2 separate regions of the Homo sapiens genome follow, and region 2 is linked to region 1. The links come from fine-mapping of genetic effects on gene expression. Tissue or cell type: pancreatic islets. Region 1 holds a variant in brackets; the other region holds the start of a gene. All regions are shown on one strand. Distances are between the middles of the regions.

What was found. PIP is the estimated chance that this variant, and not a neighbour inherited with it, causes the effect.
Region 2: HRNR starts here. The variant in region 1 is fine-mapped to the expression of HRNR in pancreatic islets (van de Bunt 2015, PIP 0.95).

What each region holds. Positions count from the first base shown.
Region 1 is chr1:152,183,488-152,191,487 of GRCh38, reverse strand. It overlaps CCDST (cervical cancer associated DHX9 suppressive transcript), which reads right to left and starts at 2,185. Exons shown (of 8, transcript NR_186765.1): 1 at 2,007-2,185. The variant G/A (reference allele first, on the strand shown) is at 4,191.
Region 2 is chr1:152,220,264-152,228,263 of GRCh38, reverse strand. It overlaps HRNR (hornerin), which reads left to right and starts at 4,071. Exons shown (of 3, transcript NM_001009931.3): 1 at 4,071-4,121; 2 at 4,986-5,148; 3 at 6,774-8,000. The coding sequence starts at 5,011. The region is part of intron 1 of CCDST (cervical cancer associated DHX9 suppressive transcript); the gene reads right to left.

The sequences.
Region 1 (8,000 bases):
CCTCCCAGCAAGTGTAGGCATGAAGGGAAAGGGGTGTGGCACATGTCCAGAGTTCCCTGGGCCAGAGGTGAAGAGAACTGACTCAGGCTCAGAGAGGCAGCTCAAGGGGAGCAAGCACAGCGAACAAGGGGCACAACTCCCAAATAGGAGCAATGCAAAGTCTCCACTCAAGTGGAAAGATCAACAACTGAGACTACAAGAGACAAGGAGGCAGTTCTAGAGGGGAACTAAGGATCCAGATGGGATATCTAATTGAGGAGTGAAAAGCATAGCATAAGCTCAGTCTCATAGACAAGTTCAACACAGGATAAAGGGAGTAGAGACTTGGGGGATAACCAGAGGCACAACAACTGTCAGCAAAAGGAATCCAGTGAAATTCTGGAACCTACAAACCAAGAATGGGTGACCAAGTTTAAGGACCTGACCTAATTCTAAGCTGTAGGTACAGATTATCAGTGGGCTTGTCTTGGGGGAAATGGGGAAAGTAGATGAAAAAGAGATGAAGGCCAAAATGGTTATGTATAGATTATTTGTCCCTTACGGGCAGGAGACAGGCTTTATGCCTCATTTCTATCCTCCACACCAGTTAGCAAAATAAATATTTACTGATTATGTAAAAAAAGAAAGATCACAGAGAATTTGGTATTACCCAATGATGGGAAGTATGCCAAGATAACCTTAGTCATGATTTAAGCAAGTTATGTATTGTGAAGTCTCCATCACCCTAAAAACACCAAGTGGTAATGTGATCTGGTGAATGAACACGACTGGAAATGAGGACATGAAACCAGACCAGTTTTGTTAGAAACCTCTTATGAGACCCTAAACAAGTTACTTTACTTATCTGAACCTCAATTACCTCATCTTTAAAGGAGTAAATGTAATAACTCCAATTTTTTCATATCTAGAACACACTTCCCGCCAGATCTGACTAATTTCCTCACATCTTTTGAATCTTTGCTCAATCTTGCCTTCCTAATGAAGCCTATTTAATACTAACCACTCTATTTCATACTGCAACCTGCCCATCCCACCAACCCTACCCACACACACAAACACTGGTCTACATTTTTTCTTTTTCATAACACTTCTAACATTTTACATAATTTATTATCTTTATTGTTGTGTGCTAGAATGTGATCTCTATGAAGGCAAAGATCTTTGTCTATTCTATTCATTGATATACTTCACATCTCTGAGTGGAAACTGGAACAGAGTAAACATCCAATAAATATTTGTTGAATGAATACATGAATCGATCTTTAAAAAGGCCAAAATCTTGTGAAAGACCAGAATAATAAATCATTTATATTCTCCCTGAGACCAGGGTCGGCCTCCCACACCCTCAGGCATCCCTATATCCCCTGGTACAGTGTACCATAGTGTGGAATAAGTATTCAATACGTCCCTACTAAATTACTAATTAAACATGGGACCCAAAAAGACAAACATAACCGCGTGCTCTGGGGCCACCTGCTGGCAACTCTTAGTAGGTACCTAAGCAACCAAACTGACAAGAATTTTCAGTGATGAATGGAGTGGCAGGGATTATCTCCTTTCAGCCAGTGAGAACAATCAGGCAACAGACGGCAACAGGAGGAAGGAGGGTAGGCTGGAAATCAGACGTTTCCAAAACCTGCTGTGAAGGACCATACACCCACTGTTTCCCAGAACTCACTTTCTACTTAACAATAATAACGGTAAGTACCCTGTACTGTTTTAAGCACTTTCATGTATCATCTCATTTAATCCTCACATTAATCCGCTGTACCATCTTTACCACCATTTTATAAATGACCAACATTTCCTTTTGAAATAATTACTTTACTTACGTGAAGCAGTGAAGCGGTAAAACAGTGTAAACTATTATTAGTAAGAAAAATCAAGGCATGACTTTTGGGGAGTACCAAGGCACCATGTGCGGGCAGAATGTGACACGCCTGGAGAGGACCAACGACGCCCCAAGGGGGCTGACCTACCAGCCCGCCCCTCAAGCCAAGCACAACCTCAGTCCGGGGTTCTGGATCCCAAAGTCCGCTCCGTTACATTCGGATCACACCAGAACAAGGAGGCAGCCCGCGCCCCGGCTAGCGAGCTCTGCGCCAGGGGAACGCGTGCCGGCGCCCTTAAGCTCCCAAAGCCCCTTCTCGGCGAAGCCGCCGGGGGACGCGGGCCCCGGAAGTGCAGCCCCTCCGCCCGGAAGCAGCTTTTCCTACTTCCCTTGGCGCGACGGGAGCCTGTGTTCACCAGTGCTCCGGCTGAGGCCAGATTCCTGAGGCCGTTCCTTTCGCTGTTTCCGAACGCACAGCCCCGAGAGGCCGGAGGGGATACGAAAGACCTAGGCCGATGGCCCTTCCACACTGCCGCCCCTCGGCTCCCCACCTCTACCAAGGGAGGCCACTGATGTCAGATTCCTCTGTGTTCTGGGAGGATGTTCTGGCCGAGGTCCGCGACCGGGCCCAGCAGCTGCCTGGGGCAGTCCCCGTGATCCTAACAGAGAACGGGGCCTCGGCTCGCAGGATCCCGCTCTGGGCTCCAAGGGCTCCTCGTATTGTAGGAGCTTTCCGCAGCCCCTCTAGGCGCTGGGACCCTTTGGTGGGATAACGGCTAGGGTTCCCTACTCCGTCCAGTGCCAGCGTCCGGCCTCTGAAAGACTTTCCTCAGCCTCCACCTTATCCCGTAAATAAGGACTTCAGGTGACCTGCAAGTGCGCCCCCTGCTGGCCCGTCGGACTCCCACCACCTTGGTTCGCCCCAACAGCCTTGGCTACATGGTTTCCCAAATGGAGTACCAAGATAGTCTTAAGTGCTACATGCACTTTTTAAGAATGTTTGAGTATTTATTCTTATTTGTGTTAGAAAATACTAAAACCAGCCCAACAAACCGGTTATCTCAAATATTAGTGTAAGGCTAAATTCTTAAGTGAGTAGTTAACATTGGTTCAAAAATATTAGGCCGGGCATTGTGGCTCATGCCTCTAATCCCAGCACTTTGGGAGGCCGAGGTGGGTGGATCACATGAGGTCAGCAGTTCAAGACCAGCCTGGCCAACATGGTGAAACCCCGTCTCTACCAAAAATACAAAAATTAGCCGGGCATAGTGGCACGCACCTGTAATCCCAGCTACTAAGGAGGCTGAGGCAGGAGAATCTCCTGAACCTTGGAGGCAGAGGTTGCAGTGAGCCGAGATCGCGCCACTGCACTCTAGCCTGGGCAACAGAGCGAGACTCTGTCTCTAAATAAATAAATAAGAATATTATTATTATATATACACAGATATTGCAAAAATCTTGAAGGTGGTACTCAGATGACTAAAGGAGAAAACTCAGTCTCACAGAGTCAATCAAGGGAAAAAACGGGTGTGGTAGTTAATTTTATGTGTGAATTTTGTAAACCAAAAATTATCTGAGACGGGTCTCAAATCACCTTAGAAGTTTATTTTGCCAAGGTTAAGGACCACTCCAGAAACAGGTCTGTGCTTTCCCCAATGATAATTTTTTAGGACTTCAATATTTAAAGGGTGAAAGCAGGGTGGAGAAGAAATAGGGAGGGTAGGGTCACATTACTAAATCCACATATTGCAAGATAAAAGGAGAAGAAGGTAAGGGAATAGTCAATTATGTTTCCGTCTCATGCTCAGTAAATCGGTGCTTTACACAAGGTAGGGTGAACATAGAGTGGAGATATTTAATCTTTTATCAGTAGCTATGGGCCTAGGAACAAAAGGAAAGGCCGTTGCTTGCATGACTTACCTTCTGCTTAATTTTTTTCTTTTGGCATAGTGAACTTCCCTTTCACATTTCAGAGGATATTTTTAGATGGGATTAACATTTAAATCAGTAAACTTTGGGTAAAGCAGATTGCCCTCCCTAATGGGGTGGGCCTCATCCAATCAGTTCAAGGCCTGAATAGAACAAAAAGACTAGCATCCCTGAGCAAGAGAAAATTCTCCAGCAGACTGCCTTAGGATTGTGTATAATCAGCTCTCCCAAGTTTCTAGCCTGCTGTCCTACACTGCAGATTTTAGACTCTCCAGCTTCCATATTCACATCAGCCAATTCCTTGTAATAAATCTCTTTCTATAAATACACATGCTGTTGGTTCTGTTTCTGAGAAATCCTACTAATATGGTGGGTGATCTTAAATAGTCTTCCCTCTCTGACACTGAGTGGAGCTTCAAGGAGGACAGCA[G/A]AAGAAAGAGGGCTTGACTCCAGTATCCAAAGTGCTGAGGGCTCACCCTAGGACCTATTCACTGGGCATATTGCTGTAGCTTTACTTCTTCACTCCCCCTTCCCACCAGGTCCCTTGGATGCCAGGTTCTAAAGCACTCCCACTGCTCACTCTTCCTGGAAAAGGGCATTGTGGTGGAATGTTGAAGGAGCTTGGCAGCCAAATCAGCATATCCAGTGTCGTGACTCAACCCCTTCACAGCTCGCAACCTTAGTTTATCAAAGTCCCTTCCCTTCTCTGGAATTCCATTGTATCTGTATGATGAGAAGGCTTGATTAGGTGATGTCTAAGGTCTCTACTAGAGGTGAGCGCCTTTTCCCCACTCCTGGCCTCTTTTCACTCCTTTCTTCTCCTTGCCCCTGAGATGGTAGAAGGACTTAACTGGTTGGTAAATTTTGTAAGAATAATTGGCTTAGCTCTACTCTGCTTCTACTTGGGAACTGCAGAGATCCCTATGGCATAATAGGGACTTACTCTTAGGCAAGGATGCCCAGGCCTGTCATGATTAGGTGGGTAAGTTAGCCTAATTCTCAGTTCTAGTATGAGCAAGCCCCAGCTAGCAGACCTAGCGCTACTAATGTCTTACTTAATCACTATCAATAAAAAAGATGACATTTTGAGCACCACATTTTCTTTCTATTTTTCAGTACAGTTCAGAACAAGGGCAAAGAAATAAAACAGTTCCGTTTACTGAGATCCCTTTGCAGAACACAGTAATTCCTTCTAGCCCTTTCTAGCACTTATTAAACAAGACAATATAAAACATCTAATGAATAAATTCACACTAAAGGGCTAATATAACCCTTCATAGGCTATTTATACTTTAAAAAGCACTATAAGAAACAGAAAAAGGGCAGTGCTTTATGGTAGACATTATATAACTATACTACCTCAGTGGAAAGTATATTTTGGAGTAAGACCTTTTTCAGGGCCTCTCAAATTACACCCGTCTGTTCATCCGTCAACAGTTGTTAAGAAAGTTAAAAGTAGAGATTATGGAGTTAAATTGTCTGGGTGCAAATCCTGCTGATGTCCCTGACTAGCTGTGTGGCCTTGGGTAGGTTGTTTAACCTCTCTGTGCCCTAATTTTTCCATCTACAAGATGGGGATAATAGTAAGAACTTGAAAGACACTTGGTAAGCACCATAAAACTTCTATTGTGTGTAAGACACTGTGTTACTCCTAAATCCCCCAGGACTTTGCCTCTAGAATAAAATCTATAGAACCAAGAAAGGAAATTGATTGCAGAGGCCGTGGGAATGGTAAAATTAAATCAAATGTAAACATTTGGGCCAGTAACAAGGACGAATTTCTGGACAAACATGACTTTAAAAACAGGACTCTTTTCCCAGGATGAGCTCCTCAAACTGATATCAGATTGACTAGTTCAGCTTCCAAACCCAGGAAGCTCTTTTGGGCACTTGGGACACTCCTGAACAGCATGCACAGGGATTTGCTCCCTGATGATACTGAACGTAATTCCTCCAAACTGCCACCAGGTGTCTACAGACACTCACACACCCTCTGGCTCCTAAGTCAACAGATGGGTACTTTAACTGAGAAAGAAGTTACCAGCCCAAGGGCACGCGGTTTGTTAACGATGAACTCTGTGGTAGAACCCAGGTTTGTGTGGCTGGTTATTATTCAGTCTCAACTCCAAAGTGCCTCAGGGATAGAAGAAGCAAATTTCAAAGAAAGAATCAGGCCCAGGAGGAACCTGACATACCATCATACCTCTGCCTCCTTGAAGGATAACACGAGCCATCCCAACCATAAAAGGATCCTCTACTCCACCAGAAAAGAGATTTAAATTGCCCCTCAGTCTCCCTGAAGCTCAAGCCCAGGGTTTGGCGTTTTTCACTGCTTAGAAGTTTTTCTTGGCTCTGCCTTCAGATGTCAGCCCTGAAATTCTCAGCTTAGACCAGCAAGCCCAGATGTATTTCTTCCCTTTGCCTTTAATGGTCCTCTCCTGGTGAGCACAGAAGTAGTTTGGGCAGCATTCAGTGCAGAGCAGGGATCCCAAATGCAAACATCCTCTCTTCCCTGTCTTAGATCTAGCTGTTAACAAACCTAGAGGTAACTATATGCATCTTTCTTCTTGGTAAACACTGAGTACTTATAGCATGGAGTCCATCATTAGACACAAAGAATGTTCACACTTGCACTACACCTATGTATTTCTCTTGCTTACACAAGGGCACACTACCCCACCACCACTAAATCATAAGTTCCTTGAGGGAGGAACTCTGGCTTTCCTCCCAGCACTACACATGGCAGCTTACACAGTGAATGCTTGTTGAATTTGCCCCAGTGGTGACAAATTTGAGAGGCTTGTGTGGATTCTGTATGTGGGATTTTATGTTCATGTTAGATCATTGCCCCCTACCCTAAGGAGCTCCTACTTTGAAAAATGGCATATGTCTGTCTCCTCAGTGGCAATACGGGCTCTGGGTGTAGACACACATGGGTGGTATAATCCATGGCACAGGACCCTGGATCTTGGGATGAGGCTCAGGCTGAACAAAACTAAGAAAGCAAAGGGAGACATGGGTACAGAAACCTCCATAGCCTGGACCTCCCCTGACTCTATAGCTGCCCTAGGGTGTCATCAGATCCCCTTCTCATCTCTTCTCTTCCCCTTGCTTTCCCTCCACCTTTCTCTCTCTCTCCCCATCTCTCTGCTCCCCTCTTTGCCCCTTTTGCTCTCTCCTCTTACTTCCCCTTTCCCTCCCATCTCCATCGTTCCCATGTTTCCTCTTTTTTTCCATCTCCCTGCATTGAATGAACAAAAACAGAGCTTCATACCTAAGACTCAGAGTCCTCCTAAAGGAGTTCCCGAGATGAGCTCAAGGACAGCTCAAAGGCAATGGCATCTGGAGTCATCTGTGCTAAAGCACTCTGCACCAGTGAGGACTCTTGGAGAAGATTCTTCCTGTACCTCTGTCTGGTCTTATTGGTGTACATCATTCAATAAGTCACTGGCCTCCCAGACGCTGGCTTCCATTGTCCTTTGCACCAAGCCTCCCAGGACAGGACCAGTCCCATCTTGTTCCATAGGAGCCTGCCTCCCACCTTGCCACTTTCAGGCCAGTCCAGTCAAAAAGCCTAGGAGCCTACACTTCCTATAGAAGGCAGTCAGAACACCATCAGGCCCCAGGCCCACTTTAGAAGCCATTAAGTGCCTACTCCATACACAGTTCAATGACAGTACAGCAGCTTCACCACCATTGGGGGAGACACAAACATACAACCCTGAAGTAGGTTTATGCCCTGGGAGCACATGATCTTGCCAATTCTGCTGCCCTGGTCTCAGTTCAACACATCTTCACTGAGTATCAGCTCTGAGCAAGGTGCTGAACTGCCTTCTATGCCAGGTCACAACTAAAAAGCAACCAAACACAAATCTACCCAGCCTGCGGGTCCAATTACTCTGGTAATAGCTTCGCCAGCTATTTTGTCACCTTGTCTCTAACATAGGGGCTCTTCCCACTCACTTCCTTCATAGCTTAGGCCCTGATCTGAGAAATAAAAATCTCAGACACCTCTGCAAAGGGGTCTCTTTAGGAACTGGTGAGCAACTATACGTTTTTATTTACACTTTTGGTCATAATGGTAGGAGATGAAACTTGGCATAAAATGAAGACCACAGGGGAAGGGCCTAGAGCAAAACACACTGGAAATGCCAAATTCCAGAGCAACTCCATGAGCCTGTGATTAGTATGGAGAAATGGGTAATCTCCTTTGACTCCCAAGGCACTGCCAAGACCATGC
Region 2 (8,000 bases), 37 kb before region 1:
GGCATACACCTATAATCTCAGCTACTCGGGAAGCTAAAGTGGGAGGATCACTTGGGCCCTGGAGTTGGAAGCTGCAGTGAGCCATGGTTGCACCACTGCACTTTAGCCTGGGCAACAGTGAGACCCAAAAAAAAAAACTATATATATATTTTTTTCTCATATATATATATATATATATATATATATATATATATATATTAGAGAAAGATACTGATGGAATAAATAAAAGGATACATGTATGAATGAGCTCTGGATTCCCAGCATTTGAAGCATTTTGGAGTTCTCGGAAGAGAAAATGGAGGATATTAAGGGAGAAAGAAACAACTCAATAGGCAGACCAGTACTGAAGCAGAATATATTCCAGGGTGTGGGTCTGAAGCTGAAAGATATGTCACCATGCCTGTCTCATCCCCAGGGAATATATACTAAGCTGTAAAATTATATCGAATCCATTTTTTATTTTTTGAGATAACAGTAAAAAGGACTCAAAAGAGGATATAGAAGGAAGCACTATTTAACCAGTTTCATATTATAGCTAACTTCTTTTGATTCCATTTACCCAAAATCATGACCATCAACCTTCTCTTATATACATACCCCTATTTTTTACATAGTCTCCTCATTTATAGAGACTAGGCTACAAAGAACTATAGAAATTCCATGAAATAATTTCTGTAAGGAAAAAGGGCAGAAAAGGCAATGAAGAAAAGATCTGCTTTAGAATTTCCCTATGACCCAGCAGATGGTGCAATAGGCACATTACTCTGCCTTCCAGACAGGCAGAAAAAAATGAGTGCACACAGATGGTACTGGAACTTCACTGTTTATCCTTGCTAGTTTTGTTTGTTTGTTTTTCCTAGGTGAAACACTCCATTCCTGAAGAACTGTTTCCAAAACCCTTCCTTTACCAAGACATGAATATTTCCCTACTTGCTGACTATTCCTAGGAAAAAGCAGATTTGAATTTGAATTCTGTCTTCTCCACTTAACAGCTAAGTGACTTGAAACAAGTTACAGATTTCATCTGAGCCTCAGTTTTCTCATCTGCAAAATGGAAATATAATATCTAGATAACAGGGTTGTTGTAAGAATTAATGAAACAATGTACACCCACACACAAAGCACTGTGCTTGTCATAAAAAGGAATGTAATTTTCATTCTTCTGCCAACACACAGAGAAAGGCACTCAAAAACCTAGAACATGGCACATACCATAGAAAAGCTTTTCTCCTGAAACCTATCATCTCCAAGTGGAAAAACCACTAACCAAACCCATGATGGAGGAATCTTCATGTCCAACTCTGTTACTATGGAGCACACACTCTAAAAAAAACAAGAAACTGTTTTGAAAGTGACTTTTGTGATAATCTAGTCCTACTCTTAATAAGTAATTCTCAATGGGGAGAGAAGAGACCAAGACGCATATGTAATATGCTTCTTATTTTCATGATACAAACGAGGAAAAAAAGCCCAACAAAATTCTAGTTGGTGAGCATATCCAGAAAACAACGTAATGAAAGAATTAATTTTTTCTTTAATAGTAAAAAACTATTCATATGATACTTGACAATAAATTCAGTTACTTCACAAAGAGCTCACTGCATTTTCAGTCAATGCAAATATTAAATATTTCTCCCTTACATCAAATCAAAATTTATCTCCCTTTTACGAGCAGCCAAAGGTCCCTTGTTCTGTTCCCTTTCCCCACCACCCCACACATGCTGATATTTACAAATTCACCTTCACTCTTGTTCTCTCATGCAAGAGTTAGTGGTTCTGATGTCCCACACTTTTCAGCCCTTCTTTTCTCTCAGATCCTCCTCTCCCAGAGAATCTTCCTGAAAAGCAAATACAGAAGAGGAGCAAAGAGTGGTAAACTACAGCCTGCAGTTCATAGCTAGCTTGTCATCCATTTTTGTGTAGCCTACAGGATAAAAAGGTTTTCTACATTTGTAAGCGGTTGAAAAAATATATGATATGTGAAATTATATGACATTCAAAGATCAGTATTGATAAATAAGTTTTACTGAAACATAGCCATGCTCATTTGTTTACATATCATCTATGGCTGCTTTTATGCTACAATAGCAGAGTTGAGTAGTTGCAACAAAAACTATCTGTCCTGCAGAGATAATATTTTGTACCATCTGGCCCTTTACAAAAAAAAAAGTTTGCTGGCCCCTATTTCAGGAGAACACTAGCCCCAAGAGCACGTTCACCTGGAATAGTCTTCTCTCACAACCCTCTCCTCCCTTCGTGACAACAGCTGGTTCCTGCAGGAAATCAGTCTTCACTCAGCAAATTCCACCCCCCTTTACTCCCACAGTCTCAGCCACACCTTTAAAAAGTCATTGTTCTGATGAAGCATGAAAACCTGGCCCAATCAGATGTCCAGAGGAAACACGGCTACAGAATGGATACTGACTCTGCAGCCCTCTGGGCAATTCTTAAAAGAAAACACATAGCCTAACAATAGTTGAATTTGGAATCATGTAATTTATCACTTGCCAACAGTTGCTACCACACCTTCTCAAATCCTGATGACCATATTGCACAAGTTTTAAGTCCATGTAACTTCACACACCTTCAGTGAAATTTGTGTTATATGTTCACAATGGAAGAAATGCAGAGCGAGGGCCTCAGAAAAAAGCAGAAAGCCACTCATTGATTCTCAATGCTAAGATTCCGTTTATATTCAGGTAAAATCATGTCCTCTGAGGCAAAGATGGCAAGAGAGAGGGCAGACCCTAGTCCTCCTGTGAAAAGATGGAAGTTGGCCAATGCAGAGGACTATAGTCTTGATCCTTGCTTCTCTTTCAAATGAATTCAAACTGACATTTATTGGAGACCGTTATGTGACAAGCAGTATACTAGGTCTCCAAATGACATAAGGATAAATAATGTCCATTCCTTATTCTCAAGGAGCTCATAGCCTAGAAATGAAATAAGCCCATAGACAAATGTGTGTGTCTGTGTGTGAATGTGTGTGTTTGTGAAAGGCAAGGATATACAACAAATAACTAACAGTAGTTATTTTTGGCTAGTGGCTTTAAAGGTATTTTGATTTTATCTTATTTGCTTATCAATATTTTCTAATTTTTATATTAAACAATAATTGTATAGTAAAACAATTTTTAAAGATTACAATATAGTATGATTGATACAACAATAAATATGAATAAGGTACACAATTACAACTCCCTCTTGAGTAATTCAGGAAAGATTTTCTATGGGAAGCCTAAATTGGATTTTGAAGAATAATTAGTTCACTAGGCAGACAATGAGGAAAGACATTCTAAGAAAAAATATGAAATAACATATCCCATGGTATATTGAGGAAGTTTGAAATATTACTAGTTAATTACTGTTGGAGTACAAAGAGAAATATGGAGGGGAGAAATGGAGCTGGAAAAAAGCCACAGCCCAGATCATGAGGAACCATGGATACCATGCTAACAAGCACGCATTTCTTCCTAAGGTTATATGGTGTTTGAAATGAAAGCTATGGTGATGAATGGCCAATAAGGGGTCTGGTAAATTGAGGTACTTAATGAGTTAAAGGATGGCCTGGAGCCATTATCCAATTCAAAAGGTAATAACAATACCAAAGATGACACTTTGGCTGGAATACCATTTAAGAACATTTAGCTTAGAATGGGAGAGTTTGACTAGATGATCTTTACAGTCCTTTTAATCATCAATTTCCATGATTTTTTGACATTTGGGCCATGATGTCCCTGCACACACTCCATTCAACTTCTATTAAAATCCACACAATTTGTTGTCAATATATTGTGCTAGATAGTTTGATGAATACAAAAACAGGCCTTTCTGCAGTGTCCTGACCCTTTGGCAGGTGGGGCTGAGAGTAGCCCAGATTTGGGAACTGCTAATGCAATCTTAGGTGAACCTGTAAGGAAGTCAGGAAGAAGGTAAACACCTGGGAGGTGGAGATAGAGGTGGAGATGGGCTTGTTTAGGAGTAAATTAGGACATCTCAAAATTAGCAACTCCTCCCTAAGAGGGACCATTATTCCCTCTATAAAAAGGCCACTCTGCCCAACTCGCAGCACCCTGAAAGCTGTTTCTGTCTCTACCCTACTTGTTCCTCTGGTGAGCTAGGTAAGTGAGCAGTTCAACTCCGCTCAAGGGTACTTAGGGCTATAAATTATGAAAGTCCAGGATGTGCTCTAAGGCAAAGAGGCACTAGATACAAGGCTTCTTTTTAGTATACTCTGGGGAACTTTGGTATAAGTTTAAATTTACTGAAAAGAAAAATGAAACAAAGACTAGGACTATGTATATTATCTCCTTTCTTTGAGGTCGCTTCCCTTATAACATGGATATCATGGGGTTCTAATTATCCACAGGCAGGTTGCCTTCTTTACAACTGAGCTTTTCCTCTCTATTGTGTAATAAGGTCTGAGGGTCACTTCCTGCTTGGAGAATGAGAACAGAAGCTGGATCTAATAGCAGTTACCCTTAGCTTCATATCACCTAGGCTTGTTGGCTTTGCTCACATTGTCTATTTTCTCTGACCTAGAAGTCTTGAGAGTTCAGTTCAGCCATTGATGCTCCTTAGGTTGAGTAAGGCATGTCATGTAGATGATGGACCTATGCCCACAGTATGCTTCGAACCTAGAAAGAGGAAGCAGATGAAGTGGAACACTCAGGACTTCTACAGCTCCAGAACAAAGCTAATATTATCCCTGGTAATGGCAGGAAGCCAAAAACAGAAAGTCATTTTTCCTACATTCATTCAGGAATGGAAATAAGACCTATGGATTATATTCCTAATTTCATCACTCTCTTGCTACATGGCTTGAACAAGTCATTCAACTCTGAATTGGTTCTTGATTACAACAGAATGAATTTAATCATGACTGACTAATTCTGAACAATTATTATAAATAATTAGAACTATTTATGTGTTTAAACAAGAAATAAGAATAGTAAGGGGTTGGTCTCTCTTTTTCCTCCCTTTAGGTTACTCAAACTTGCAAAAAAAAAAATGCCTAAACTCCTACAAGGCGTCATCACTGTCATCGATGTTTTCTACCAATATGCCACCCAGCATGGGGAGTATGATACGTTGAACAAGGCAGAGCTGAAAGAACTTCTGGAAAATGAGTTTCATCAAATTCTGAAGGTAAGAACTCCACGCCAGGATGGAGTTATGCAGGAATTTTCTTCTTTATCCCTTTCCACCTTCTTGTCACATATGTCAAACATCCTAGAGGATTGTCCTTACTTGGTGAGAGAGAACAGGGTTTGGTAAAAGTTTGAGATAAGGTCAAAAGCAGATCCGTGATGGTTTCCATAGCATAACTAACGGAAGTGACCTTACTAAACAACAAACAAAACCCACAGGTTAAATAATGTCCTATCTAAGTGACTAATTCCTACAAACCCAGACAGTCCTCAGAAAAACTGTGAAGTAGATTTCTGAGTTCAGGAAATTGGCATTTACTCCTGAATCACAAAAGAATGTGTCCACCACCTTAAAACTGTCAGGTCTAGATTTGATAGCTTAGATATTTGGGACCTTATATCAGACTCCTGAGTTTCAATTCCTTAAATTTGGATTTCTGTGGATTTCAGATATGATATTCAGATATCAGATGTCAGATATTCAGTGTGTCAGCTATGAATCTCATAATCTTCCCCACTAACCTTTTTCCTTCATCTTTTTGCCCAAAGCAAAAACCTGGTGTCATTTTTTATTGTCTCTCTCTCAGCAGACACCACTACCTTCTAACCTCCATCTAACTCATCAATAATCTCTCAAAACAACCCATTTCTCTTCATCACTATTATTAGTCCTCTGGTTCAGGCCACCTACTACTTCTACTCTCAGCATTGGATGCAAATATAATCATTTCACTCCTCAGCTAAAAATCCTTCAATAGTTCCCAATTGCTCTTAAAATGAAGTACAAAGTTCCTTAACATAACTTAAAAGTCATAATCTAGTCCCTATTTGTCTCTCTATCCACATTTCTTGACTCTTCAAACTCTAAATCTAGCAATCCTGAATTTCCTTCAGTTCCTTGAATGCTCCATAACTTCTCTCACCTCTAGCCCTTTGTTCATATAATTCCCTCTGCCTAGAACAATCTTTTCCCCTTCTCTTTCTCTTCCTACTTCTTCATTTGGCTAATCCTAATCCATCCTTCAAAAGGCATCATTTCCTCTCATTAACCTTTCTAGGACCCCCAATGTTTCCTCTCTGATGTACTCTTGTAGAAACCTTACCACAATAAATTATAATTTTAAGTTTGTATATCTGGCCAACTAAACTTTAAATTCCATTTTTTTTCAGGAAGCAAACTTGTTCACTTCTTTATACTCTCATATGACATAATGGTAGGCAACTAGTAAAATAATAAATCTTTGTTCAGTGAGTAAATTAAGTAGCTAGTTAATTTAATTGGATAAATAAAGTTGATATAATTAATGTAGGTATAAAAACATATTACTTATAAATTAGCTAATCATTCATATTTGACCCATTCTTTACCAAAAATAATCAGCCCTCTTGTTTCCTTTCATCTTCCAGTTGCATCCTATTCTAGCTGTTTCCCACCACATTATTCATTCCATATTCCTTTTTCTCTTTCTGCTCAGGATACAGAAATGCAGCCTAAAGGACTGTGTGAATGAGTTCCATATAAATAACCCAAACATTTACATTTTCACATCTTTCCTTCAGTTCGTTAGCCAGATGTATTGTCCATACTAACAGAGCTACTCTTTGTACCTTTCTCTTATACAGAATCCAAACGATCCAGATACTGTGGATATCATCTTGCAAAGTCTGGATCGAGACCATAACAAGAAAGTGGATTTTACTGAGTATCTTCTGATGATATTCAAGCTGGTTCAGGCTCGTAATAAAATCATTGGCAAAGATTACTGCCAAGTTTCAGGGTCAAAGCTGAGAGATGACACTCACCAGCACCAAGAGGAACAAGAAGAAACTGAAAAAGAGGAGAACAAACGGCAAGAATCCTCTTTTAGTCATTCAAGTTGGAGTGCAGGAGAGAATGATTCCTATTCCAGAAACGTCAGAGGAAGTCTTAAACCTGGGACTGAATCCATATCCAGAAGACTGAGTTTTCAAAGAGACTTTTCTGGCCAACATAACTCCTACTCAGGTCAGTCTTCCAGCTATGGTGAGCAAAACTCCGACTCCCATCAGTCTTCAGGCCGCGGCCAATGTGGGTCTGGGTCAGGGCAGTCTCCCAACTATGGCCAACACGGCTCTGGCTCCGGACAGTCTTCCAGCAATGACACACATGGGTCTGGCTCAGGCCAGTCTTCTGGCTTTAGTCAACACAAGTCTAGCTCAGGGCAGTCCTCTGGTTACAGTCAGCATGGATCTGGCTCAGGTCACTCCTCTGGCTACGGACAACACGGCTCTAGGTCAGGACAGTCATCTAGGGGTGAACGACACAGATCTAGCTCAGGTTCGTCTTCCAGCTATGGTCAGCATGGGTCTGGTTCCCGTCAGTCTTTGGGCCACGGCCGACAAGGGTCTGGATCTCGCCAGTCTCCTAGCCACGTCCGACATGGGTCCGGTTCGGGGCACTCCTCCAGCCACGGCCAACACGGGTCTGGCTCAAGTTACTCTTACAGCCGTGGCCATTATGAGTCTGGCTCAGGCCAGACTTCTGGCTTTGGGCAACATGAGTCTGGCTCAGGACAGTCCTCTGGCTATAGTAAGCATGGTTCTGGCTCAGGTCACTCCTCTAGCCAGGGACAACATGGATCTACGTCAGGGCAGGCATCAAGCTCTGGCCAACATGGCTCCAGCTCACGTCAGTCTTCCAGCTATGGTCAGCATGAGTCTGCCTCCCGTCACTCTTCAGGCCGCGGCCAACACAGCTCTGGATCTGGCCAGTCTCCAGGCCACGGCCAGCGTGGGTCTGGGTCAGGGCAGTCTCCCAGCTCCGGCCAACATGGGACTGGCTTTGGTCGATCTTCCAGCAGTGGCCCATAT